Homo sapiens: one gene and its partners. The protein of the gene in region 1 interacts with the protein of each later gene in a biochemical or structural test. Each region holds a gene or a part of one and is shown in the gene's direction. Other genes may lie near its edges.

Region 1 (7,338 bases):
CCTAGGGAGGGATCTCAGAGGGACTGCTTTGGAACAGGCAGTCTCTGGGTAAGGTCCAGAGCTCACAGACCAGCCAGAATTCACACTGGGACGGCTGCTTCTGCTGGCTCACGGTGCCAGGCTGTCACTAAGCCAGGGTCACGATGAGTCACCTGCAGCAGGAAAGGTGCCCTTGTGCCTCCCAGTCCCCCACCCCCCACTTCCCCAGAGCAGGCCCAAGGGTGTGTAAGGTGAGTCCAGCAGGACTGTGTTATTCCTTAGACCATAATCCACAGCTTACTGCTTTTTTAAAAATGTAGATTTCTGCCAACCCTTCCTCCCAATTCCTATCTCAGAAAATTGAGGGTAGAGCAGAGTGACCATAGCTGTCTCTCCTTCCAGGATTTGAACCCTAGCTCCTCACTCTGCGACCATGTCTCTCTGGACACATTACTTAAACTCTCTGAGCTTCAGTTTTCTCTTTTGTAAGATGGGGATACTTGTCAAATAAGGTTGTTGAGAGGATTAAATGAGATGATCCATACAAAGGCAGTCAGCACTGTGCCTGGCAGATGGTCATCTCTGAATCAATGTTAGCGGTCCTGAATGCTTCTGGAGCACCTCATAGACTAGCTGCTTGGCCTTTGAGGACATACACAGAACTGCAAATGAAAAATTACAGTAAAATGGGTAAGAGCTGTCATGGGAATAATTTGGACATACTGCTGTTGATGAAGAGAGGGAGTGATGGGATGGTTAAGAAAGGGAAGACATTTGGGCCGGGTGCGGTGGCTCACGCCTGTCATCCCAGCACTTTGGGAGGCCAAGGCAGGCAGATCACAAAGTCAGGAGATCAAGACCATCCTGGCTAACACGGTGAAACCCTGTCTCTACTAAAAAAAAAAAAAAAAAAATTATCCAGGCGCGGTGGCGGGCGCCTGTAGTCCCAGCTACTCGGGAGGCTGAGGCAGGAGAATGGCGTGAACCCGGGAGGCGGAGCTTGCAGTGAGCCAGGATCGCGCCACTGCACTCCAGCCTGGGCGACAGAGCGAGACTCCGACTCAAAAACAAAAAAAAAAAAAAAAAAAAAAAGAAAAAGAAAAAAAGAAAGGGAAGACATTTGAATTTGAGACTCCAAAGTGGGTAGAAGAACATTCCAGGAAAAAGAAACCCAGCATTCACATAGGAGCAGTTAAACGAGACTGTGGACCAGCACAGTGGTACCTCTATAATCCCAGCTACTGAGGAGGCTGAGGAAGGAGGACCCCTGGAGCCCAGGAATTAGAGTCCAACCTGGGCACCATAAGAAGACCTCATCTCTTTTTTTTTTTTTCTGAGACGGAGTCTCACTCTATCGCCCAGGCTGGAGTGCAGTGGCTCGATCTCAGCTCACTGCAAGCTCCGCCTCCTGGGTTCACCCATTCTCCTGCCTCAGCCTCCTGAGTAGCTGGGACTACAGGCGCCCGCCACCACGCCCAGCTAATTTTTTTTGTATTTTTAGTAGAGACCGCGTTTCACCGTGTTAGCCAGGATGGTGTCGATCTCCTGACCTCGTGATCCACCTGCCTCAGCCTCCCAAAATGCTGGGATTACTGGCGTGAGCCACAGCGACCAGCTGACCTCATCTCTTAAAAAAATGATGATTATTATTTTAGAGAGGTGGTCTCACTCTGTCACCTGGGCTGAAGTGCTGTGGCATGATCATAGCTCAATACAGCCTCGAACTCCTGGGCTCAAGTGATCCACCCGCCTCAGGTTCCTGAGTAGCTGGGACTATAGCTGGATGTGCCACCACGCTCGGCTATAAAGAAAAACAATGTTTTTTGAGATGGAGTCTCGCTCTGTCGCCCAGGCTGGAGTGCAATGGCGCGATCTCACCTCACTGCAACCTCTGCCTCCCGGGTTCAAGTGATTCTCCTGTCTCAGCCTCCCGAGTAGCTGGGACTTCAGGCACCTGCCAGCACATCCGGCTAATTTTTTGTATTTTCAGTAGAGATGAGGTTTTGCCATGTTGGCCAGGCTGGTCTCGAACTCCTGACCTCCTGGCCTCCCAAAGTGCTGGGATTACAAGCATGAGCCACTATGCCTGGCCAGAAAAAATTTTTAATTAAAAAAAAATGAGCCTGGCCAATATGGTGAAACCCCGTCTCTACTGAAAATACAAACATTAGCCGGGCGTGGTGGCGGGTGCCTGTAGTCCCAGCTACTCGGGAGGCTGAGGCAGGGATAATCGCTTGAATCCGGGAGGCGGAGATTGCAGTGAGCCGAGATCACGCCACTGCACTCCAGCCTGGGCAACAGAGCAGGAATCCATCTAAAAAAAAAAAAAAGAGAGAGAGAGACTGTGGCCCAATTTTATGCTCTGAGCTAAACTGGGAGTTTGAACACCTGAAGACTGTTAAAAGTTTTACACAAGGTAGCAACACATTCAGATTTGTATACATATATATATATTTTTGAGACAGGATCTCCCTCTGTCACCCAGGCTGGAGTGCAGTGGCATGATTTCGGCTCACTGCAACCTCCGCCTCCTGGGTTCAAGCGATTCTCCTGCCTCATCCTCCTGAGTAGCTGGGATTACAGGCGCCCGCTAACACACCTGGCTAATTTTTGTATTTTTAGTAGAGACCGGGCTTCACCATATTGGTCAGCCCGGTCTCGAACTTCTGACCTCAGGTGATCTGCCAGCCACAGCCTCCCAAAGTGTTGGGATTACAGGCATGAGCCACGGCGCCCGGCCAGATCTGTATTTTAGAAAACTCAGTGGGAGTTGTTTGCAGTGCGATTAGGGGCAGCCAGACGAAAGAGCACCAGCGAGCACGACACTCGTAGGAACACAGTCCAGAGGCAATCATGAGGGCAGTGAGAGTAGGAGATGCCCCTGGCTACAATTTAGTGTTTAGAATTATCTGGGCAGGTGACCCCAAAGCCTCAAAAGAGAAGAGAACTCTGTACTTCACGTGGCTTGGTACACTCTGCTCCCTTTGCTTTGAATGTCCTTCCCCGCCGAGTGCGGTGGCTCACGCCTGTAATCCCAGCACTTTGGGAGGCCGAGGTGGGCGGATCTCAAGGTCAGGAGATCGAGACCAGCCTGGCTAACACGGTGAAACCCCATCTCTACTAAAAATACAAAAAGTTAGCCGGGCGTGGTGGCGGGTGCCTGCAGTCCCAGCAACTCGGGAGGCTGAGGCAGGAGAATGGCGTGAACCCGGGAGGCGGAGCTTGCAGTGAGCCGAGATCACGCCCAGGCACTCCAGCCTGGGCGACAGAGCGAGACTCCATCTCAAAAAAAAAAAAAAAAAAAAAAGAAAGAATGTCCTTCCCCATTTGTCATTCAGCAGTCAACACATGCTGCCTCCTCTGGGAAGCCCTCCTGGATTACTCCATAGACTGGCTGTGGGGGCTCTGCTCTGTGTTCATGTCCGTTTCCCATGATAGCGTTTGTCAGCATTTGTCATCCTTTTGTCATCCAGTTTCCTGGTTCCTCTCACTGGTCTGTGAGTTCGAGGAGTGCAGGGCCCAGCCATGATAACCTTTGCACCCGCAGTGCAAGTGGAGTGTCAACAACAATGTCCTAGGTGAATCAATGAAAATGAGAACGTCAGCTGGTCTGTGGAGAAGCTAGAGGAACGAGCAGAAACGGACCGACGTGGCCGGGCGCGATGTTTCTCGCCTGTAATCCCAGCACTTTGGGAGGCCGAGGCGGGCGGATCACCTGAGGTCAGGAGATTGAGACCATCCTGGCCGACATGGTGAAACCCCCGTCTCTACTAAAAATACAAAAAACAGCCGGGCGCGGTGGCTCACGCCTGTAGTCTCAGCTACTCGGGAGGCTGACGCAGGAGAATCGCTTGAACCCGGGAGCAGTGAGCCGAGATCGCGCCATTGCACTCCAGCGTGGGCGACAGAACAAGACTCCGTCTCAAAAAGAAAAAGAAAAAAGAAACAGACTGATATCGCAGGAAGCCTGGCCGAGAACTCAGGCCCCAGGGCCACACGCATCTTTTCTCCTCCAATTCTGTCTGGGAGTCGCTGCCTAGAAGTCCCAGGTCGTCCAGGAACCGGGGCCCAGACGAGAAGCACCGCTCTGTCCGCAGCGCAGGCGCGCGTCTCTGCGGGAGGCTGCGAGGCCCCGCCCCTCGGGCCCTAGACCCCGCCTCCCATCCCCCGCAGCCCGGGCCCGGGAAGGGCGGCACCGCCCATGAATCCGCATGCGCAGTGCGCGCGCGAGGGCGCCTTGCCCTTCTCCCAATGGCGGGCCGCGGGCCCCTTCCCGGCAGCCTCCCTCGGGCAGGGAGCGCGTCATTTCCGGAGGGGGAGGCCCGCGGCTGCCGCCGCCATTTCGGGCGCTGCTGTGAAGCTGAAACCGGAGCCGGTCCGCTGGGCGGCGGGCGCCGGGGGCCGGAGGGGCGCGCGCGGCGGCGGCACCCCAGCGTTTAGGCGCGGAGGCAGCCATGGCGGGCAACTTCGACTCGGAGGAGCGGAGTAGCTGGTACTGGGGGAGGTTGAGTCGGCAGGAGGCGGTGGCGCTGCTGCAGGGCCAGCGGCACGGGGTGTTCCTGGTGCGGGACTCGAGCACCAGCCCCGGGGACTATGTGCTCAGCGTCTCAGAGAACTCGCGCGTCTCCCACTACATCATCAACAGCAGCGGCCCGCGCCCGCCGGTGCCACCGTCGCCCGCCCAGCCTCCGCCCGGTGAGGGACTGACGGGACGGCGGGCCCTGGGCGGGGTGAGGGCCGCGGAACTCCCAGCCTGGCTGGCTGGTCCTCGAGAGCGGACCCTCGGGGGTCGTGGGCAGAGGGCTGGGTGACCGTGGCAGGGGCCCGCCGGCTGCTCGGGCTCGCTCTCACCCGGGGAGCAGGAGTGTGGGGGAGGAGGAGCCGCGGACCGAGGCCCCGGGGTGTGCCTGGGGAGGGCAGCCGCGGGGAAGGGGAACTGCTTCGGCCCCAGGGTGGGGCTGGCTCCCGGGCCAGGCGCAAGGGTAGGGCAGGGCAAGGCAACGTGGGGACAAAGAGCTGAGGGAGATGTTGGCACTGCGGGGGCATCACTTGGCAGCGGCGCCCAGAATGAATCCGATAATCCTACAAGTGGCTTTTAGGCTGGAAACGTTTCCTGCCGTGTTGGAGAGCCGGGTTTGGCCGTGCTCCCCTGGTGGCCTTTGGTAGGAAGTCACCACATACTGGCCGGGAGGGATGGAGACACCCTCAGGAAACCGGTCAATTTTTTCCTTTCTTGGGCATTTTTCCAAAATCTTTGTACCGTTCTCTTCCCCCGTGGAGGACGAAGGTGGTGAACTAAGTGCTAGAAGAAATAGTGGTAGCAGAAAGCCTTCAGTGACCAGCCCAACCCAGTTTAAGGCGATGCCTGGCTATGTGCAAGAGATCTAAGCGTCCAGAAGACTGTCCGCCGTTAGAGAGTTCTGGTTTTCAAAGTGTTTAGTGGAGGAAAGACATTTTATTCCACAAAATAAACCAGAAGTGAGGCAATGGAAACAGACCCTTCCCTGTAAGTGACTGGAACTTCATTTTCCTTGGACTTAAACATTGTCGGTGTGTACTTCAGGGCGTCACCTTGCTCAGTAAGATGGGGCTGCGGGCTGAGTCTTCCTGGATATTGGGAACAGACTCTACGCCAAGAACATAAATTACCTGCGCTGGGTTTTCCTTGCCAGGGAGGGATCCCTGAGATTGACTGTCTTACCGATGCCGTTGGAGTTGATTTGGGACTGTTTTAAGGGAATAGATAGATGCCCTTAGTACTGGAGATTTGTGAGGTACAAAGTAATTCTGGGGTTCTCATTGTATGTGTACCTGTGTAACAGCATCAGGAGTCCTCGTGCCTTCACGCTGTTGCCAAGTCGAAGCAGTTTCTTCTTGGCCAGCTGAGAATGGGTTCAGACTAGTCTCATATGAATCAGGAAGCTCTTGAGCCGTCCTTTGTAGACTTGCCCTTGTAGAATAGTTCTAATTTAGATTTACTCGCTCCGGCCAGAAATAGAGAATTGGATAGGCAGTCTCTTTGTTAACACACACCAATTTTTATTTTACTCTTTTCTAAGACGGAGTCTTGCTCTGTCACCCACGCTGGAGCACAGTGGCGCAATCTCGGCTCACGGCGATTCTCCTGTCTCAGTCTCCCAAGTAGCTGGGATTACAGGCACCCGCCACCATAACCAGCTAATGTTGTATTTTTCGTAGAGACGAAGTTTCACCAGGTTGGCCAGGCTGGTCTCGAACTCCTGACCTCAGGTGATCCACCAGCCTCGGCCTCCCAAAGTGCTGGGATTACAGGCAAGAGCCACCGCGCCTGGCCAACACATACTAATTTTTTTAAAATTTTTCTTATTTATTTCTTACTTATTTATTTATTTTGAGACGGAGTCTCTCTGTCGCCCAGGCTGGAGTGCAGTGGCGCGATCTTGGCTCACTGCAACCTTTGCCTTTTGGGTTCAAGTGATTCTGCCTCAGCCTCCTGAGTAGCTGGGATTGCTGGTGTGCATCACCACCACGCCCAGCTAATTTTTTGTATTTTTAGTAGAGATGGGGTTTTACCAGGTTGGCCAGATTGGTCTTGAACTCCTGATCTCAGGTGATCCACTCGCCTTTGCCTCCCAAAATGCTGGGATTACAGGCGTGGGCCACCGCACCCAGCTTTGTTTGTTTGAGGCGGAGTTTCGCTTTTGTTGCCCAGGCTGGAGTGCGATGGTGCAATCTCAGCTCACTGCAATCTCTACCTCCCCGGGTTCAAAGGATTCTCCTGTCTCAGCCTCCCTAGTAGCTGGGATTACAGGCACACTCCACTACGCCTGGCTAGTTTTTGTATTTTTAGTAGGGTTGGGGTTTCGCCAAGTTGACCAGGCTGGTCTCGAACTCCTGACCTCAGGTGATCTGCCCACCTCAGACTCCCAAAGTGTTGGGATTACAGGCGTGAGCCACCACACCCAGTCTAACACAACCATTTTTTAAAAATGAGTATGGGGTCTATAAGCTCACAAATTATCCTAGATCTTTCTCATTGTGGCCTGTTTAATAGTATTATGAGATGGGAATATTGATGTACCTGTGTTGGCCCTGAACCAGATATATTCTACTTTGATGCCACCTGCATAGTATCTGGGGTTTTGCATTATATGTCGTCACATGATGGCAAACTGTCATTGAAACTCACTTTTCAGCCTTTTGTTTGTGTTTGTTGGTTGCCAAAGTTGAAAATGGCAGCAGGCAGGTTTGTTAGTTTGATATTTTTTCATATCTTAGCATAACGATTTTATGTCTCAACACTTACCGTGATAATCGAGCACCACCTTTTCAAAACAGATAAGAACTCAGTTCCTTGGCTGAGGAAAGACGGTGAAGATT
Region 2 (6,967 bases), on another chromosome or scaffold:
GATCTGCAGAAATGTGCACACACACAAGGATGCTCTGAGCGTGGGGGAGCAGCAGGAGGTGGTGGGAGGTGGCTGGGACTGCTCCTCCCAGGCTGGCCCCTGGAGCAGAGGCCTGGGTGCTAGCCGGGTGGGAGTCCTGGTAAGGAACATTCCAGGCTGAGCTGGGCCAGAGAGGCATCCAGGGGCAGGGACCAGGTGGCCAGGCCTTTAGGCCAAGGGGGAGGGATTGGGTGTGATTCCTGGTGTTGGAGCCTGGGAAGGCAGGGTGGAGCTTGCGGACTTTCTGCGGGTACCCCACCCTCTGCCCAGTCTCTTCCTGAGCTGGCAGGCGGTGAAAGGGGCTGCCAGGGTTGCTTCCTAGGAAGCCACCTTCTCTGTGTGTCCCCGCATGTGCCAGCCTGGGGGGGCTGTGTCCCACATATGCCAGCCTGGGGGAGTGTGTGTGTGTGTGTGTGTGTGTGTGTGTGTGTGTGTCTGTCTGCCTGCCCCTGCACGTGCCAGTCTGTGTGTGTGTTCACGTGTGCTTGTGTGTGTGTGTGTGTCCACGTGTGCTAGTGTGTGTGTGCGTCCACGTGTGCGTGTGTGTGCGCGCACACGCAGCACCACCTGGTGGCCACTCAGCTCACTGCGCCCGCCACAGGGCTGGCCTGTGCTTCTGGCTCAGAAAACTGGCCTCAGCGCAGCCCCTGTCTCTGCCCTCCAGGGGAAGGAGGAGTTTGAGAAGACCCAGAAGGAGCTGCTGGAAAAGGGCAGCATCACGCGGCAGGGCAAGAGCCAGCTGGAGTTGCAGCAGGTGAGGCCCCGGAGCAGAGCAAGGCCCAGCTTTGCCCGCTGACCCCCTGAGCCCCCAGCTCTTGCCCTGCAGGGCCGACCCCGGGTCCCCAGCTTCTCATGTTGTCTGACAGTGCTCAGAGCTGGGCCCGGCCTGCCACCCCCCTGCCTCCTGACCATCTTCATCTTTTCACTTGGTTTATTTTAAAGTTTTCAAGAGTAATTGTTGGAGACATTTAGGGAATTAGAGAGTGGGGTGAGAGCAGAAAATAGACCCCTCACAGCTGCCATAGGCTCAGCACGGGGCTGGCTCTGCCCTGCTCCTTCCTCCAAGCTGCTCCCTGCATGGCCGGGATGGTGTCCTGTGGGCATTCGACTCTTCTGTCCCAGCATCTGCCATGGCGTTAAGCATTCTTGTGGATTCTTTCAAAGACCACTTAGCGTCTATTGAATGTTTGTATTGTACCCACACTTCCTTAGTATTTTTTTTTTTTTGACACAGAATCTTGTTCTGTCACACAGGCTAGAGTACAGTGATGCGATCTCAACTCACTGCAGCCTCAACCTTCTGGGCTCAAGCGATTCTCCTGCCTCAGCCTCCCCAGTAGTTGGGATTACAGGCGCCTGCCACCACACCTGGCTGATTTTTATATTTTTTATAGAGACAAAGGTTTCACCACATTGCCCAGGCTGGTCTCAAACACCTGGGCTCAAACGATCCACCTGCCTTGGCCTCCCAAAGTGCTGGGATTATAGTGTGAGCCACCACATCTGGCCCCTTATTATAAATATACTGCTGTGTTTATATGCAGACATGTTAATAGAATTTTCCTCATATTTTGAATCAGTTCTTCAGGGTAGGAAAGAGGTATGTAAAAAAACACTAAGGGAGCTTTATTCTGATTATGAAGATAATTTTAAAAGTGAAAATACAGGATAGCACGAAGTGAACATAAAAATATCACCCGTCAAATCTCCCTCGCCTACCTTCTGGGCACCAAGGAGGTGGCAGAGGCAGGGGCCTGAGACCCACGACACACAGCAGTGAGGCTGCAGCCGCCTCATGAGAGCTCGGTGAGAATCACTGAAAAGTGGAAGATGCCTGGGAAGTACCTGGCACATGGAGACACTCAGGAGAGGCTAGACATTGACATCTCAGAACGGTGGCAGGGTGGCAGGGGGTGGGGGCTGAGAAATTACCTAATGGGTACATTGTACCCACATAACAAAACTGCACCTGCACCCCTGTTAAATCTACTAAAGAAAACACCCAAGAAAAGAATAAATGTCACACCTGTAATCCTAACACTTTAGGAGGCTGAGGCAGGAGGATCACTTGAGGCCAAGGGTTTGAGACCAGCCAGGCCACGTAGTGAGACCCAAGTCTGTATACATTAATACAAATTGTGGCCAGGCACAGTGGCTCACACTTGTAATCCCAGCACATTGGGAGGCCAAGGCGGGCAGATCACTTGAGGTCACGAGTTTGAGACCAGCCTGGTCAACATGGCAAAACCCCATCTCTACTAAAAATACAAAAATTGGCCAGCATAGTGGCACACGCCTGTAGTCCCAGCTACTTGGGAAGCTGAGGCAGGAGAATCATTTGAACCCAGGAGGCGGAGCTTGCAGTGAGCCGAGATTGCGCCACTGCACTCCAGCCTGGGCGACAGGGTGAGATTCCGTCTCAAAAAAAATAAAATAAAATTGTTTTAAAAACCTCCTGGGTGCCGAGGCGGGCGGATCACCTGAGGTCGGGAGTTCGAGACCAGCCTGACCAACATGGAGAAACCCCATCTCTACTAAAAATACAAAACAATTAGCTGGGCATGGTGGCACATGCCTGTAATCCCAGCTACTTGGGAGGCTGAGGCAGGAGAATCGCTTGAACCCAGGAGGCGGAGGTTGCGGTGAGCCGAGATCGCACCACTGCACTCTAGCCTGGGCAACAAGAGCGAAACTCCGTCTCAAAAACAAAAAACCTCCTGAAATATCAACAATATATAGGTCTATATCTCTGTCTAGAGAGAGAACTCTGGGATCGCCGTGTTTTCAGAAGTGGTCGTGTACTTTGTCCGTCCTCTGTGTGCCTCCAGCACTGACTTCACCAGTCCCCTGCTGTTGGACACTTAGGCTGTTCCCAGAGTTTTACTTTTGTGAACAGTGCTGTGATGAATACTAGTCTTTGCACGTATCTGATGAATCACTTAGATAACTTGCTAGAAGCTGGATTAAAGGGCAAGAATATATGTGAAGAACTTTAAAGATGTAGAATTCCAAGGCCAAGGACATAAAGTCCATGTTAAATGCAAGTCCATGAAGACTTACTGATGAGAACATCTGTTGCCCCATTTTTGTATCGGTGAAGAATCTGAAATCTCCACCCACAAAGTGTCTAATAGGAGAGTATTGATTCAATAAAGTATGGACATTTATGCAGTGGGATATTATATAACTATGAAGAGTTGTCAAAGAATAAAAAGGGCTGGGTGCAGTGGCTCACGCTTGTAATCCCATCACTTTGGGAGACAGAGGCGGGAGGATCATCTGAGGTCAGGAGTTTGAGACCAGCTTGGCCAACATGGTGAAACCCCATCTTTACCAAAAATACAAAAATTAGCCAGGGGTGGTGGCGCAGGCCTGTAATCCCAGCTGAAGCAGGAGAATCGCTTGAACCCAGGAGGCAGAGGTTGCAGCGAGCCGAGATCGTGCCACTTCACTTCAGCCTGGGCGATAGAGCAAGACTCCATTTAAAAAAAAAAAAAAAAAGATTAGCCTGGGTGACAGATCAAGACTCCTTCTTTATAAAAATAAAAATAGTATTGAAAAAAAAAAAACCCCACAAAGCTTGTTGCCTGTGCTCTGTCAGGGCTCACTGCAGCCTGGACTTCCCAGACTCAAGTGATTCACCTGCCTCAGCCTCCCAAAGTGCTGGGATCACAGGCATGAGCCACCTCACCCTGCCTCATCAGAGCTTTTCAAAGAAAAAAAGCGGAGTATGTATCTCACTGGCTAAGGGAACGGAGAGATGGAGGATTTCACCAAGTGGCTGCCTAAGGGGGACAGTGCGAGGTTCTAAGTGTTAGGAAGGGGAGGTTTCCTATTGGTTTTGCTCATTGTGGCTTGGATCTTTGCGCCTAGGGTGGCACAGAGCTTACCAGTCCTGAGTCTGGGTGTGGCTGGTCACTTCCGGAGCCAGAGCGGCTCTAGTGAGGACACATTGTCCCCTTCAGCTGACTCCTAGGCACGGGAGTGGAAATGTTAACTTTCGTGTGTGGTTCTGGAAGATGATTTAGCAGAGGTTCTATTTAGGGGCATTGGATTACAGGTGACATCTTCGTTTTTTCTGTTTGATATATTTGAATCTTTTTATAATGTGTATGTTACTTTTGAACTAAGGGGAAAATTTTTTTAACCTTCCATTTTGAAATATTTATAGATTCACAGGAAGTTGCAAAGATAGGGTCGAGGGGTCCCCAGTGCCCTTCAGCCATTTTCCCCAGTGCCACGTCTCAAGTCACGTGGGACAGTACCCAAGCCAGGACGGTGACCCCCCGACCCCAGGCAGCCACTTTTCTGTTGTCCATCTTGTCATTTCAAAAATGTTCAGGGCACGGAGTCTGACCTTTTGAGACTGGTGGAAGGGTAACTGAACAACCTCCAGAAGGCTTGCCATGGTTCCTGGTCCCGTCCCCGGGAGAGGAGACTGCCCGTTTCCCTGCAGTCCCATGCACTCTGAGTAGCGGCCCTTTTAGAGAAGCCCAGCCCAGGGTGCCCAGGTCTCGGCCTGTAGTTCCAACTCACCCGAGAGCCTAACCCTGCTCCTGCTTCCCTCCTGCCCCAGCTGAAGCAGTTTGAACGACTGGAACAGGAGGTGTCACGGCCCATAGACCACGACCTGGCCAACTGGACGCCAGCCCAACCCCTGGCCCCGGGGCGAACAGGCGGCCTGGGGCCCTCGGACCGGCAGCTGCTGCTCTTCTACCTGGAGCAGTGTGAGGCCAACCTGACCACACTGACCAACGCCGTGGACGCCTTCTTTACCGCCGTGGCCACCAACCAGCCGCCCAAGATCTTTGTGGCGCACAGCAAGTTCGTCATCCTCAGCGCCCACAAGCTGGTGTTCATCGGGGACACACTGTCACGGCAGGCCAAGGCTGCTGACGTGCGCAGCCAGGTGACCCACTACAGCAACCTGCTGTGCGACCTCCTGCGCGGCATCGTGGCCACCACCAAGGCCGCTGCCTTGCAGTACCCATCGCCTTCCGCGGCCCAGGACATGGTGGAGAGGGTCAAGGAGCTGGGCCACAGCACCCAGCAGTTCCGCCGCGTCCTAGGCCAGCTGGCAGCCGCCTGAGGGTGGTGACCCCAGGAGGGAGGCAGGGGAGGGGTGCGGCGGTCCCAGCTCCCTGGCTCCCATGTCAAGAGTCGCTGTGCCACAGGCTTAGGGACAGGACCCCAGCTCTGCGTCGGTCCTGGTGCCCTGGATGCCCAGGAATCTGTATATATTTATGGCCGGGCAGGGTGTGGGGCCATGCCTCCTCAGGAGCCGAAGCCCAGGGGCCGGCCAGTGGCCTTCCCCAGCATGCACCACGGGCCCGGGTTGGGTCACCAGACGGGGCTGGAGTGTGAGGGTCCTGCAGCCTGCAGGACCTCGTGCCACCCCGAGGGCTGAGCCTGGTCCCACGAGGGTGCCGTGTCCCCTGACAGGGCCAGTGCAGTTTGGTGTGTCCTCCGCCTTACCAGGAGAAGAACCTGAAGAACTATTTTTCGTTATTGGTTTTCCAATCATTTGACTAAGAGTCTCCATTTAAATAAAGTTTTTAAAAGGAAGAGCAGCTGCCTGAGGGTGGCAGATGAGAGCAGCCCGGGGTGGGTGACGGTTCTGGGGAAGGCACCCGGGGGCAAGGGCCATGCGTGGCATCTCCCGGGAGGGCAGAGGAGGAGTGGGTCTCTCTAGAAGAAAACCAAGGAACGCCGAGGCTGGGTGTCTCCTGGAGGCGGGGTGAGGCCTGCAGCTGGCCACAAGGCCCTGGGAGCCAGGGCAGAGCCTGGGCCCAAGAAAGGGGGCAGTTTCAGAGCTGCAGGGTCTGGGGCCCAGAAAGCACAGCCTGGGCATGGCCCCTGCAACCCTAGGGAGCTGCCACAGTGAGCACCTGCCCATGCCCACAGCTGGCATCTGGAGTGAGGGCAGATTGGGGCAGGAACAGCTGCACAAGGGGACGGGTTCCTGTGAGCCGAGGGCACCGCTGGGGGCTGCATCCAGAGCTCTGCTTAAAAGAATCTCATCCCAGCCTGCGGAACTCCCGAAGTGCACATGGAATTATACCTGGACCTGGCATCTGAGTTGGGAGGGAGGGGCTTGGAGAAGACCCTTGCCCTGGGCAAGTGTGTCCCCCTTCGTGGCTCCCCCACCCAGCAGCCCGCAGCCCAGATGGAAGCTTCAGGGTGCTTGGAACCCCTGGTGCTGCTCCCAGCCCTGACCGTTCTGCATATGAACATGGGCCTTGGTTTCCCCATCTGTATGAAGAAGGGAGTAGGGCTGGGTGATTCGCAAGCCCTCCTGATCTTACCTCTACAGAGGTTGTCCCCGTGACAGCATCTGTCCCCCCACCTCAGCCACATCATGCTCAGCCCACCTGCCTTGGTGAGGACACAGAGGTAAAGGTGTATGCAGTTGCTCTCAATGGCTTTATTTGTGTTTTACACAGATGCGGGGTAGGGGGGGTGGTCTCGGCCTCCACGCCTTCCCAGGCATGAATTTCATGATGCGGGCATCCACGCCTGGTGACAACAGGAGGTGCTGGTGCTGCTCCAGGACACGATGCCCTCCAGAGTCCAGGCTCCATCCTGGCAGGCAAGGGCTGTCGGAGTCACCCTGCAGGAAGGAGAGGAGGTGTCTCCAGGCCTGAACTGGGTGCCAGGGCCTGGGAGACCCTAACCTGGCGGAGTCCAGGGAGGGGTGCGGAGAAATGGCAAGTGTGGGTGCAGGGGCTGTGCCAGGGTCCTGAGGCCTGGGTTCACGTGGCAGCCCCAGCTCTGCCATGCACACTCCTGGAGGGAGCTGGGGCAAGTGGCTTTCATCCATGCCGGGGCGCCATTCATCCCATGAGCTGACGCTTCCAGCTCAGAGGGCTGGGAAGAGGAGGAAGTCCCCAGGCAGCCTCGCCTGCCTGGTTCAGGAAGCTGTGAGCCT
Region 3 (6,881 bases), on another chromosome or scaffold:
GCCTGCCACCATGCCCAGATATTTTTTTTTAGTAGAGATGGGGTTTCACCACGTTGGCCAGACTAGTCTTGAACTCCTGACCTCAGGTGATCTGCCCATCTCGGCCTCCCAAAGTGCTCAGAGTTACAGGCATGAGCCACGGTGCCTGGCCTGTTTCACTGTATTTCTTATGGTGTCACTTGTTCCTCAACCTCCTCTATTTCCTGTAAGCACGAAGTTGGGTCTAAAGTCTTGAATATACACTTTTGGGCTGGGTGGCATTGTGCATTGTGACTACATGCCTGGTCATCCAGTATGATGCCCAGATCTCCCACTGAATCCAAGAGGCAGTGGGCATAGGCCTTGTTCCTCTCCTTTCAAAGGGCAAAAAATCTGTGGTCAGGCCCCTTTTCCTGCATAAAATCTCCACATCCCTGTTCCATTCTCATCTCTCCCCACCGACTGAGAAACATGCCCCATTGACTCACTGTGCCTTCTGGTACCTCCACCAGGCAAGATTTTGCTGAATTTACCTCCTGAATTTGCAGTGCACATGTGTGAAATTTTTTGGAATTAAAAAAATTAAAACTGTACTTTTCAAGATTTAAAACTGTAATATTGATTGTGTTCTTCATGGCCCCAAAGCAAGATTCTGTTGTATCTTGGAGGAGGGGGGTCACTACTCTGAAATCCCAGTGATGGGCAGCACTGAGCAACTGAGAGCCTCAGCATTCTTGGGCTTGTTCACACCCACAAGCTTGGCACAGATCCAAGTCCTGCAAGATGCCTGGGAGGGCAACTGAGACCTGTGGCCCAGCCACATTGACTCAGGAGGTAAAAATGTCAACAGGCCACAACCTCCAGGGCTCCTGGAATTGGAGACGAAGCCAGTTCTGAGCTTATGCAACCATAGGACAGTGAGAGAGGGCCATGGACTCGATTTAGAGCCACAAGATGAGAGCACTGCTGGAGCACCGTGGGGATGCTGACAAATCTTCTCAGGGCTTCAAGGACCGTGGCTACAGGTACATCTCAGCCAAACTTGGGCACATGTTGCAATCAAGGGACTGAAGCTACAACCACCTGGCCCGTGGTCCACCTGGAGTTTTGTTTTGTTTGTTTTTGAGATGGAGTCTCACTCTGTCACCCAGGCAGGAGTGCAGCGGTGCGATCTTGCTTCACTGCAATCTCCACCTCCTGGGTTCAAACAATTCTCCTGCCTCAGCCTCCTGAGTAGCTGGGACTACAGGTATGCGCACCCACGCCCAGCTAATTTTTGTATTTTTAGTACAGACAGGGTTTCTACTAAAACCCTGGTTGGCCAGGCTGACCTCGAGCTCCTGACCTCAAGTGATCTGCCTGCCTCAGCCTCCCAAAATGCTGGCTGGGATTACAAGCATGGGCCACTGTGCCCGGCCCCACCTGGAGTTTTAAAATTCTGATTTATAAATTTATTATATGACAGTCTACCAAAAGTATGCAAATCCGGCACTACACTTATTTATGCATTCAGTGAGTCACCTTTATCTGAGTGCAAGTGGCAACTGTTCTAGAAAATGGGAACCATGAGGTTATCAAAGAACCTGGAGGTAGGGTCAGATGAGGAAGCACATCATTATGATGTCTTACACATGCAGTCATGTCTCCTCTTATAATCCTAAGACTCACCTGTGAGATTCCTATTACAGCCCCTAGTTTACATGTAGGAATATCAGAACCCCAAGGTTTAGAAACAGAACGGCCAGAAACAGGAGGAGGATGGCCATGCAGCTGGGCGTGGCAAGGCCAGGCCTCCCAAGTCTGCATGACTCTTAAGCTCCTGGCCATTCGTTACAGCACGCCATCTCCAATGCAGAATCACACCAACAGAACTGAAACTGCACATTAAAGAGAAGGCGAGTGTCACCAAAATCTGTTTCCCAGGCTTCTTTGCAGAATTCCAAATTCCTAGCACGACCAATAAGGCCCTTCTTCTACCTCTGCAGCCTCAATTTATGTCACTTTCCTGTTGTTCCCTATGCTTCGGCCATCCTGGCCTTTCTGTGCTCTGAAGGAGTGGTGCTCCTTCCTAAACCAGGGCCTTTTCACGTGCTGTTCCCACTCCAGTTCACCTAGCTGGTTTCTGCTTATCCTTAAAGTCTGGGTTTATCTTATTTCCTCAAGGGAGGCCTCCCTGCTCTGGAGCAGGTCAGGCCACCATGTCCTTTACCGTAGAGCACCCTACTTGTCCTGGACAGCACCTTCACAGATGCTTCTCCTTCAAGGGGTCAGAGTCACCAGGCCACCACTACAGCGCCTGAGCCCCGGAGGTTTCTGATTTCCACAGAAAGCTTCAAGTGCATGCTGTGTGTGAGTGAGCCTGGCCACTTCCTCTGTGGGACTTCAGTTCCTTATCAGTAAAACAGAGCCCGTGGCTTTCCATGAATGTGGGGTTGACTTACCAGAATGCTCAGGTCCCACGTTATCCTCTTGAACGCAGCAGCTTTCCTCTAACCCACGAAAATGGAAAAGCTCCTGTGCCATTCCCAAATACTTATTTAATCTGCATTCTGGGTGGCCCCTAGGGCAGGTGACGGGCATTCTCTACCGCAGGATGGTGCCCCACCTGGTCCTCCCCAGGCCCTGTGGCCATCCTGGCCACCTCCCTGTGGGCTCTCCCAGCCCTGCTGTTCAGCACTGTCCCTACCTCACAGAGGTAGGGACCTCTTTTTCTTACCTTCTTCCTTTTCTTACCTTCGTTCCTCCAATCCCTGACGGCCCCCAGACCTACTGTAGTTGTCTCTGTGTCTTCGGAGAGAAGACACCCCATTAATGTGCCATGAAACCAAATTTATTCCATTTAAAGGGCTGCCTTCATTCGGAGGCTTTGTCCATGTCTTGGTTTTAACCTCTCTTTTCTGAAATTACAGTAAAAATAAATAGGTGTGTGTTGCTTTAACTTTTCCCTTGGAGAAATCTGAAGCCCCCACCTTTTACTGTCATGGGAAACACCAGGGCCTGAGAAGAACTCCCACCTCGGGCGAGGATGCCGTTCCTGAGCCCCACGCGTGGCCTGGGCTTTCCTTTCCCTACTTCTCTCTTCCCCCGACTTCAGCAGATCCTGAGTCCCACAACTATTCTAGCATTAGCTTCTGCAAGCCCAGCTGGGCTGAGGTTTCTGCGGCTGCTTCCTCTTGGTCTCTCTGGAAAACTCCACTCATTCAGCACCCAAGCAAGAGGTCACCTGTCTGGAACGCACTCCCTCGGCAGCGCTGTGCCACCTCTTTCCACCCCATTTGAGTGGCCGGCACTTACCTGTGCTGTTTGTTACCTGACGTGTCCCTTCTCCCACCTACCAGGCAGTTGGTGCGGCGCTCCCAGCACACTCGGGCAATGAGTGGGCAGGCGCTCAGGTAACGTTTGTCGAATGAATGAATGAGCCACGTGCTCAGGAGGACCCTTTCCAGAGCCTCTGCTGGTTTGTTCTGCTCCGGGACTCTCCACCAGGGAGAAATCCGAGCTGGGGACCTCGCACCACCAGGCTCCGGCCTAAGCCCGCGCCTTGCAAGCCGCCCGTTTCCTACCTCCCGTAGAAACCCCCCGTCCGTCCCGCCCCCCTAAGGGCGCACCCCTCTCACGGCGTGAGCGCCAGCCCCGGGAGCTCCAGGAACTCAGGAGAACCCCGCGGGGGTGCCCGGGTGCGGAGCGCGGGGCTGGGCGCACTGGGACAGAGGAAGGGGAGCCCCGGCGACCGCGGGGTCGGGGCCCAGGGTCCGCGCCGAGGGCGGGCGCAGAGCCCGCGGCCGTCCCGCCTCCCGCCGGCGCTCCCGGCCTTTCCCATCCGGCCCGCGACGCTCCGCCCGCCCCGTCCCACATGACGCCGCCTCCGCCGCAAACTTTTTCCTCCCCATCCTGTCGCGGCTCGAAAGGAATGGAAAATGGCGGCCTAGACGCGGAGTTTCCTGCCCGACCCGCGGCGGCTCCGGCGGCGCCATGACGCGCTGGGTGCCCACCAAGCGCGAGGAGAAGTACGGCGTGGGTGAGCAGCGCCGCCGCCGCCGCGCCTCTCGCCCCAAGCCCAGGCTCCGGCGGGGCGGGTGTGCCGGGCGCCTGTTGCCGCCGCCCCGAGCGGCCGCCGGGCCGGGGAGAGGCGCTTCCGCCCGCGCCCGCGCCGCCGCCCCGCTCGCAATGCCCGGCGACCCCGGCCGCCCCGCGCCCCCGGCGGCGTCAGCTCCAGCCCCGGGGATGCGGGTCGGGAACACGAGGGGGTGGGGTGGGAATGGGGGCGGGCGCGTCCCTCCCTAGGGTGTCCCCTCCGACGCCCGCTCCTCTGGACCTCTGCCGTGGAGCCCCCCGGGCTACCCCCAACTCCCCGGCCCCGGCCGCTGCTATCTGCGCGGCTGGGCCCGTCAGGGAAGCCCAGGGGTCACTGTCTCGCGGCGGCTTCTGCTTCTTGGATGAACTTGCGTCCCGCGTCCGGGCTCTGGGTGGGCGGGCTCAGGTCGGCGCGGTCCCAGCGGATAATTCCGCCCTTTCCCGGCGGGGAGGAGGGGGCGCGACCTGGGTGGCCAGCGCCCCTTGCCCCTCGGCGGTCTCGCTGGGGACCGTGTGGGACCTTGGAGAGAAGGCGAGCGGCCGAGCGCCCCAGTGGCCCCAGGCCTGGAGACCCTTCCGGGAGAGCGGGGGCCTGTTTTTGCTCCGCGGCTCTTTGTCGCTTCCGAGGGGGGATGGAAGGAGTCGGGTTGCAAGTTTACATTTCGGACCCGAGTGCGCATTCCTGAGAGGGAGGCTTTCCCTTGCGGCTGAATAGACGGGCCCGTCCGCGTGGGACCCGCATCCTTGCGCCCCGGGGACCCGCAGCCGGTCGCCGAGGCCTGCGGACGCCCACCTCTTCGTGATCTGCGCGCCTGGTGTCGGGACTGGGCCGTGGCTACTCTCCTGCTCTCCCGGGTCCGGGATCTTCCCAGTTGGTTTTCGGGCTTGCTATTCCCCGTCCCACCATCCACAGACATCCTTGACCGCCTGCCTCATCCAGGCCACTCGACCCGACTGGGAAGACCTTTGGTGGTCTCGCCTCCCACAGCCCAGGCTGTGTCCTCCAAGGGCACCGTCTCAGCAGCAGCCCCGCGCCCATTCTGTGCCTGGCCCGTGCTGGACCTGCCCGACCCTCTGCTGGTGTGGTTCGAATCCTGGCTCTCTGACTTTTGGGAAGCGCCCTGGCAGCCCTTGTCCCCGGAGCGCTCTCCTTTCTGTGAACAGTTGCTTCTCTCTGCTGTCAATGACTTACAGTATGCCCTGACCACGGAGCCAGCTGGACAGTGGTCACGGGGACAGTCCTGGGACAGCCCTGGGTCCTACCGGGCCTGCACTTAGCTTGTTCCACATGCTGGGAGGCATAGGGGGCCTCCTTGCTTCAGGACCATTATGACTGAGCTTCCTCCCCATCTCCCCATTTTGCAGATGAGGAAACTGAGGCCCAGACACATTCACAAAAGTGCAGGAGAGCTCATCTGACTGCAGACTCAGTGTGTAACCTGCACCCTGTGCACCACCTAATGGATTCAGTCTGGGGCACTTGGCACGGGCCTTCAGTCTGCATCAGAGGCGAGAGGTTCGGGGTGGATATTCCACCTGAGAATGCTTGGGTTGTGGCGACAGTGGGGGTCCCTGCGGGGGTAGTGTGTAGAGGAGAGAGCTGAGGACTGACTCCCAGGGAACCTAGCACCAGCACACGCAGAGAGAGAGGAAGAGGTGGATAGGCAGGAGAGGCAGGAGGCTGGCAGAGGAGCAGGCATCCCATAGCCCTGGCCCTGCTGAGGAAGCAACTTAGGTGCCCATGGCCAGGGTGCAGTAGTGGCCATTGGGGGTGTAGTGGGGGCCATCGGGGTGCAGTGGGGGCCATCACTGCTCCCATTCTACAGAGGCAAGGAAGAGGTGGATTGCTTGCCTGAGGTCACATCACCAGTAAGTGGTGCCTCCTGGGTGTGAAGTGTGGCCGCCCTGGGTTCAGCTGCCACAGTGTCCTGTGCTTGCCTGCAGATGGGGAGGGCTTCTCTTTGGGACGCCACATTTTAAGAGACCTTGTTACCCTTCGTCTGCCCCCAGAGAGACCTGGATGGTGTCAGTTAGGATCCTATAGTGTAGCTGGATGGTCTGGAGAAGACTGAAAAGAATGTTCGTAGATGGGAGAACGGGGTCTCCTTGCTGGGGAGGAGGCTGAGGGCCAGAACAGGGCGGTGCGCTTGAGTCTCACACCTTCCAGAAGCTTCACCAGCGCTCATGGTGGTGACTTCTAACATCACACCTCTTGCTAATACTTTGGTTTTAAGAAAACTCCATGTTTGATTATTAAGAAAAAATAAATTTAAAAAAGTTAAAAAAAGAAAAAATAGAAAACTGTTGGAAAATTTTAAAAGGCGAAAAGTATCTGGGATGGTTTTGCCAGGAAATGCTAGGAAAGATGTGAAGGGCTGAAGGTAGAGAAGAGAGTGGCTGCTGTGCTTCCTCTCACTGGGTGCAGATGACAGCTTGCTGGGTAGACAGTAATGAGACAGCACCACTCCATCGGCATCCAGAGGCACTTTAACCAGAGTCCCCCATCAGGGAGGGTGGGAGGGGAGCTGAGCATGAGCGCAATGGGGCCATCCCAGGCTCCCCACTTGTCTGCAAGTGTGCAGTGGGAGGATTTTAGTGGTTCTCACGAAGGATGCTGACTGGGAAGGATGTAGGTGCTGGGATGTAGGGATTTATTGCCAGTAGGTGATTGGCTGTTTCCACCTAAGGGAAAATTACTGGAGGACCCCTCCACCATCCTTACCAACTCCAGCATTTTTCGGAGCTTAACAACAGGGCTGTGTTTCCCTGGAGGCGCTCTGGTGGCTCTGTGGGTGGACCACACTTCCACTCTGGCCACTTGGCCCATG
Region 4 (7,023 bases), on another chromosome or scaffold:
ATGCCCGGCTAATTTTTGTATTTTTAGTAGAGACAGGGTTTCACCATGTAGGCCAGGCTGGTCTCGAACTCCTGACCTCAAGTGATCCACCCGCCCCAGCTTCCCAAAGTGTTGGGATTACAAGTGTGAGCCACCGCGTCTGGCCCCCCATACACTCTTTTACCCAGATCCTCCAAATGTTAACATACCACATATGGCCGGGCACAGTGGCTCATGCCTATAATCCCAGCACTTTGGGAGGCTGAGGCAGGTGGATCACTAGGTGTGGATCACGAGGTCAAGAGATTGAGACCATCCTGGCCAACATGGTGAAACCTCATCTCTACTAAAAATACAAAAATTAGCTGGGCGTGGTGGTGTGCGCCTGTAGTCCCAGTTACTCAGGAGGCTGAGGCAGGAGAATAGCTTGAACCTGGCAGGCAGAGGTTGCAGTGAGCCGAGATCGCGGCACTGCACTCCAGCCTGGTGAAAGAGCGAGACTCTGTCCCCCGCCAAAAAAAATACCACATACGCTTTATCACTTCTCTCTCTCTCTGTCTCTCTCTACACACACACACACACACACAAAACACATGCTATTGTTTTTCTGGACCACGTGAGGGTAAATTTTCACACATGGTTCTTTCTTACCCCTGTTATATTTCAGCGTATATTCCTTAAAAATAATATTTTCTTACATAACCACAGCATAGTTGTTTGAATCGGAAAATTAACATTAACACAAAATATTATCTAAGCTACAGACCTTATTCAGATTTCACTAATTGTCCTCCTAAGGTTTGGGATCATACATTACATTCAGTTATCGTGGCACTTCAATCTCCTTTATAACAGCTCCTCAGGTTTTGTTTATCTTTCATGATATTCTTGATGAGTATAGATTAGGTAATGGGCAGCATGTTCTTCAGTTTGGATTAGTTTGATGTGTCCTCATGATTAGATTCAAGTTTTTGTAGTTTTTTTTTGAGACAAGGTCTGGCTCTATTGCCCAGGCTGGAATACAGTGGCATGATCTCAGCTCACTGCAACCTCTGCCTCCCGTGCTCAAGCGAGCACCTCAGCCCCCTGAGTAGCTGGGATTACAGGTGCATGCCACCATGCTTGGCTAATTTTATATATATATATATATATATATATATATAAATAATATATATAAATATAAATATATATATATAAATAATATATATAAATATATATAAACATAAATATTATATACTATTTATATATTTATATATGTGTGTGTATATATATATATATTTTTTTTTTTTTTTGAGACGGAGTCTCGCTCTTGTTGCCCAGGCTGGAGTGCAGTGGCGTGATCTCAGCTCACGCAACCTCCACCTCTCAGGTTCAAGCCATTCTCTATAGAGACAGGGTTGCACCATGTTGTCCAGGATGGTCTCGAACTCATGAGCTCAAGTGATCCTCCTGTCTCAGCCTCCCAAAGTGCTGGGATTATAGGCATGCGCCGCTGCCAGGCTGGAGTTTGATAAGAACACCACAGAGGCTGTGAGCTCAGGGCATCCTATTGAGGATGTACGTGATGTTGATTTGTCCCAGCACTCACAATGATGTCTCTGGTCACTTAGTTAAGGTGATATCTGTCAGGTTTTTCTACTGTAAAGTTACTATTTTTCCATTCACAATTAATGAATGTCTTGGGATAATTGCCTGAATCAATTATTGTTATGATAGTTGCCAAATGATAATTTTCTAATTCCATTATTCCTTCTGCATTTGTTTGTTGGCATTCTACTGTTAGGAAGAGTCTTTCCAGCTGAGCACAGTGGCTTATGCCTGTAATCTCAGCCCTTTGGGAGCCAGTGGGAAAATTGCTTGGGCCCAGGAGTTCAAGGTTACAGTGAGCTATGATGGCACTACTGCTCTCCAGCCAGTGCACTCACTCTGCACAACAGAGTGAGACCCTGTCTCTTAAAAAAAAAAAAAAAAAAAGGCCAGGTGCAGTGGCTCATGCCTGTAATTCCAGCACTTTGGGAGGCCGAGGCGGGCGGATCACAAGGTCAGGAGTTCAAGACCAGCCTGGCCAGCATGGTGAAACCCTGTCTCTACTAAAAATACAAAAAATTAGCCAGGCATGGTGGTGTGCTCCTGTATTCCCAGCTACTTAGGAAGCTGAGGCAGGAGAATCACTTGAACCCAGGAGGTGGAGGTTGCAGTGAGCTGAGATTGCTGCCACTGTACTCCAGCCTGGGCGATAGAGCAAGACTCTGTCTCAAAAAAAAAAAAAAAAAAAAAAAAAAAAAAAGGTCTTCCTTTCCTATTTACTCTTATGGATACTTATTTTATTCTAGTCAATGGTTATAATCCTTTACAATCATTATTTATTTTAGCCAGCCCCTCCAAGTTGGCTCCTGTGTTCTTTGGGCTGTACCCTTAATTCTTTGAGTCTTGTCTTGTTTGCACAAGATGCTCTGGGCTTATATTATATTTCCCCCATCCCAGCCATTTCTCCAAGGAATGTTTCCTTTTAGTGGAGAATGATATTTAGAAACCAAATGCTGAGGCTGGGTGTGCTCATTGCCATTGAGTTATACCTTTACCTTATTGACTGGTTTCTACTGTTCTATTCAGAGACCCCTGGCACAAGATCCCTGCCCTGGACCCAGAGAAGCTCAATGTCTTCCGGACAGTACGGGAGATCACAGGTGAGTGGCAGAGAGTTTGCCCTTTCTAGAAGAATAGGTGAACCACTGGCATAAATTGCGGTATAACTACTTGAGAAAATCACGTCCCAAGTTATAGGGGAGGAGCCAGGAGAACCCAAGAAAGAAGAAGGCTCCCTGCCCATATGCCTCTCTCCAACCCCTCAGGTTACCTGAACATCCAGTCCTGGCCGCCCCACATGCACAACTTCAGTGTTTTTTCCAATTTGACAACCATTGGAGGCAGAAGCCTCTACAAGTGAGTAAAGGGTATGGAGGAAATGGCATCTTCAGGCAATGAAGCCTGTGTCATAGGCATTCTTTAGTAAAATACAAGGCACTGTCTCATACAGCAGTGCCTCAAAACCAAAGGGTTTCAGAGTTTCACGAGGAAAAGGCAAAAGGAGGGGGATTCCCTCTCAGTGGATCTGACTAGCACTGAGCAAATTTCTTGACTAACATGAATCCTTTGAATAGTTAATGTTCCCTTAGTAGTCTCTCCTCTCATCCTGTCTCCTTATTCTCAGCCGGGGCTTCTCATTGTTGATCATGAAGAACTTGAATGTCACATCTCTGGGCTTCCGATCCCTGAAGGAAATTAGTGCTGGGCGTATCTATATAAGTGCCAATAGGCAGCTCTGCTACCACCACTCTTTGAACTGGACCAAGGTGCTTCGGGGGCCTACGGAAGAGCGACTAGACATCAAGCATAATCGGCCGCGCAGAGACTGCGGTGAGGGAAAGGGTCTGCTAGGTGGTGAGAATAGGGAGTCAGGGAGGAGAGGGCTGAAAGGACTATTCTGCCCTAGACGTGGGAGTAGGGTTGAGGGATGGAACCAAGGAGAAGGGGGCTGTTAGGCTGGAAGCAGTAACGAGGAAGAATAATGAAGAGAGGGCTTGCTGGGAGTCCTCAGACTCCTCTCCTAACCCACCCCTTCCTTTCCAGTGGCAGAGGGCAAAGTGTGTGACCCACTGTGCTCCTCTGGGGGATGCTGGGGCCCAGGCCCTGGTCAGTGCTTGTCCTGTCGAAATTATAGCCGAGGAGGTGTCTGTGTGACCCACTGCAACTTTCTGAATGGGTACAGTAAGGGGAGCCAGTCAAGGATGGGTGGGGGTGGGGCCCTGCAATGGAACTGTTCAGGTGGCATACAATAAAAGTCTTTAGACAGCTTTCTGCATGTGCCTTGGTGGGATTGAGGTAGGAGACCTGTGGTTGTGAGATCGGAGCATGAAGGTCAGGACTTGGAAGTGACCCCCCCCTCCCTTTATTCCCCACTACAGGGAGCCTCGAGAATTTGCCCATGAGGCCGAATGCTTCTCCTGCCACCCGGAATGCCAACCCATGGAGGGCACTGCCACATGCAATGGCTCGGTATACTAGTAGCACCAGGATCTCCAAGGGAGACAGAGAAGGGGCAATACTTGGAGCATCTGGGGAATGATATGGCTAAGGATAGCACAGAGAGGCCAGATAATGCTAGGGCCTGCAGATAGAAGATCCTGAATGTCTGGGTTGGTCTTTGCTGGGAGGTATGGAATTGACCTTGGGATCTGATTCTTCCTGACCTTCTCTCTTCCACTCAGGGCTCTGATACTTGTGCTCAATGTGCCCATTTTCGAGATGGGCCCCACTGTGTGAGCAGCTGCCCCCATGGAGTCCTAGGTGCCAAGGGCCCAATCTACAAGTACCCAGATGTTCAGAATGAATGTCGGCCCTGCCATGAGAACTGCACCCAGGGGTCAGTGATGGGATAATAAGGAGAGGGGGTCAGGTGGAAGGGTAGGAGCACAGAACTAGAGTGAGGGAAGCAGAAAGAAGAGAGAGGCTGTGATTCAAGAATCACTCCCAGCTGGCCGGGCGCAGTGGCTCACACCTGTAATCCCAGCACTGTGGGAGGCCGAGGTGGGTGGATCACCTGAGGTCGGGAGTTCGAGACCAGCCTGACCAATATGGAGAAACCCTGTCTCTACCAAAAATTTAAAATTAGCCCGGCGTGGTGGCGCATGCCTGTAATCCCAGCTACGCGGGAGGCTGAGGCAGGAGAATTTCTTGAACCCAGGAGGCAGAGGTTGCGGTGAGCTGAGATTGCATCATTGTACTCCAGCCTGGGCAACAAGAGTGAAACTCTGTCTCAAAAAAAAAAAAAGAATCACTCCCAGCTGTGTAGCGAAGGATTGGAGAAAGGGAAAATCAGTAACAGCACAAAATTACACCACAGTTTTGGGAACCTGGAATAACCTCAGTTCAAGGGAGTTTCACAGAAGAGGGGCTTGGGGAGAGCTAGTGAGCTGGAGGTGGAGGCCATGTCTTGGGATCAGCTCTGGGCTCCAGGATGGGATGCCACGGTAAGTTCTGAAACAAGCTTTTATATGTTAGGCTGTTGAAATTGAGCCTCTGCTGTCCAAGCTCTCATTTAAGGTGGTGACTTTCTTCCCTAGGTGTAAAGGACCAGAGCTTCAAGACTGTTTAGGACAAACACTGGTGCTGATCGGGTATGATGGGGTTGGAGATTCTGGAAACTGGGGATATTTGGGAGTTGGGAGAGAGGTGGTTACCTGGAGAGAAGAGGGAGGCTGTCTTCATTCTGGCCTTTTATGTATGCAGTCCACTATCACTGGACACTTGGGACTCAAGAATGCAGGCTTCTGGACTTCCCTTCCTAAAATTAACTTTCAGTAGTCTAAGACTGGTCCAGATTTAGGTTGGTCCCTTCAGTGCTTAAGGATATATATGTGAATGTTAATTTCTTGCCCCAGGTCAGCATCATACCTTCAACACAAGTATAGTTGACATTTGTAAGGAAGATGCAAACCCAGGATAATGTTGGGTTTCTATATATCCCATAGCAAAACCCATCTGACAATGGCTTTGACAGTGATAGCAGGATTGGTAGTGATTTTCATGATGCTGGGCGGCACTTTTCTCTACTGGCGTGGGCGCCGGATTCAGAATAAAAGGGCTATGAGGCGATACTTGGAACGGGGTGAGGTGAGTACTTAGCTTACTTTTGTTTTTTCTTTTCTTTTTTTGCATGTCCTGGAAGTCTCTTTATAGCTTAATTTTGAGTGGTACCCTGTGCACCCAGGGGTCAGTGATGGGATAAATGTCACTCCCCTCCTCTTTCCCCAGAGATTTGATCCCTTTCTTCAAGGAAGTAGTGTGGTCCCCTAGAAGAACACTGGTCAGAGAAATGGGAGGCATGCATTCTAGTCCTGATTTTGCCATTAATTTGCCACATGACTTTGAAGAAGTTACTTATCTTCTCTGTGCCTCGGTTTATGCATCTATACAGAGGAAATAACATTTGTCCTTCCAGGATGGCTGTAAGGGTAAAGGGGGATGATGTATGTGAAAGTGCTTTGGAAAGCACAGAGCACTGTATAAAAGGTACTCAAGGTGGTAATAGTACTACCAACTCTCCCTAGCTGTCCCCTTCCCCACTTTGTGCTCCTCCATCAAAGGGAAAACCCAACCCCTTTGATTCCTGATCTCATGAGCACAAATAACTTCCTCAGTTCTCAGGGTCTGTACCTCAATATGCCTATAATCCATTCCAGGACTAACGGTGCTTCCTCTTCCTGCCCTTTCAGCTGTGCTGCTTTTGGCATTCACCTATGAGGAGCGGGTTGGAGTGGGACATGGGAATGGCCTTTCCTGAGTAACTCCTTCCCATTTGCTCCTCAGAGCATAGAGCCTCTGGACCCCAGTGAGAAGGCTAACAAAGTCTTGGCCAGAATCTTCAAAGAGACAGAGCTAAGGAAGCTTAAAGTGCTTGGCTCGGGTGTCTTTGGAACTGTGCACAAAGTGAGTGACCCATAGGAATTCTGGAGAGGTGGGGAAGGCATCTAGGGCAAAGGGGTGAAAGATTTTTGCATAGGATTGACCTAGGGAGAATGACCTTATGCCAACTCCTGCCCCAAACTTCCCAGGGAGTGTGGATCCCTGAGGGTGAATCAATCAAGATTCCAGTCTGCATTAAAGTCATTGAGGACAAGAGTGGACGGCAGAGTTTTCAAGCTGTGACAGATGTAAGTGAAGGAAATTCTGTATGCCGCTAGGAGAGAGGACAATATTAGATACAATCATGTAGAAGCAGGGTCCTGTGCTTCTCAGCAGCTACTATGTTAGCCAGAATGTTGGGGGTGGGGGGGCCTGGGCTGGCTGTGCACATGCTGAGTGTATGTGAACCTGTTGGTTTCCTAGATAATACCTTTTGTGTCTCTTAGCATATGCTGGCCATTGGCAGCCTGGACCATGCCCACATTGTAAGGCTGCTGGGACTATGCCCAGGGTCATCTCTGCAGCTTGTCACTCAATATTTGCCTCTGGGTTCTCTGCTGGATCATGTGAGACAACACC

The links.
Region 2: the proteins of CRK (region 1) and BCAR1 form a complex in vitro, tested with the Homo sapiens proteins (2 studies listed by BioGRID, with this or other methods).
Region 3: the proteins of CRK (region 1) and DOCK1 form a complex in vitro, tested with the Homo sapiens proteins (3 studies listed by BioGRID and IntAct, with this or other methods).
Region 4: the proteins of CRK (region 1) and ERBB3 form a complex in vitro, tested with the Homo sapiens proteins (2 studies listed by BioGRID and IntAct, with this or other methods).

Annotation. Positions count from the first base shown.
Region 1 is NC_000017.11:1,453,213-1,460,550, reverse strand, and holds the start of CRK (adapter molecule crk), read left to right. Parts: upstream 1-4,318; 5' UTR 4,319-4,433; coding exon 4,434-4,674; intron 4,675-7,338. UniProt on the Homo sapiens protein: Involved in cell branching and adhesion mediated by BCAR1-CRK-RAPGEF1 signaling and activation of RAP1.
Region 2 is NC_000016.10:75,227,672-75,234,638, reverse strand, and holds the end of BCAR1 (breast cancer anti-estrogen resistance protein 1), read left to right. Parts: intron 1-703; coding exon 704-793; intron 794-4,615; coding exon 4,616-5,128; 3' UTR 5,129-6,458; downstream 6,459-6,967. UniProt on the Homo sapiens protein: Docking protein which plays a central coordinating role for tyrosine kinase-based signaling related to cell adhesion. Implicated in induction of cell migration and cell branching. Involved in the BCAR3-mediated inhibition of TGFB signaling.
Region 3 is NC_000010.11:126,901,567-126,908,447, forward strand, and holds the start of DOCK1 (dedicator of cytokinesis protein 1), read left to right. Parts: upstream 1-3,861; 5' UTR 3,862-3,951; coding exon 3,952-3,997; intron 3,998-4,164; exon of another isoform or gene 4,165-6,881. UniProt on the Homo sapiens protein: Involved in cytoskeletal rearrangements required for phagocytosis of apoptotic cells and cell motility. Along with DOCK1, mediates CRK/CRKL regulation of epithelial and endothelial cell spreading and migration on type IV collagen.
Region 4 is NC_000012.12:56,090,155-56,097,177, forward strand, and holds part of ERBB3 (receptor tyrosine-protein kinase erbB-3 isoform 1 precursor), read left to right. Parts: intron 1-2,592; coding exon 2,593-2,666; intron 2,667-2,831; coding exon 2,832-2,922; intron 2,923-3,190; coding exon 3,191-3,396; intron 3,397-3,609; coding exon 3,610-3,742; intron 3,743-3,944; coding exon 3,945-4,035; intron 4,036-4,247; coding exon 4,248-4,402; intron 4,403-5,102; coding exon 5,103-5,156; intron 5,157-5,510; coding exon 5,511-5,652; intron 5,653-6,348; coding exon 6,349-6,468; intron 6,469-6,593; coding exon 6,594-6,692; intron 6,693-6,890; coding exon 6,891-7,023. UniProt on the Homo sapiens protein: Tyrosine-protein kinase that plays an essential role as cell surface receptor for neuregulins.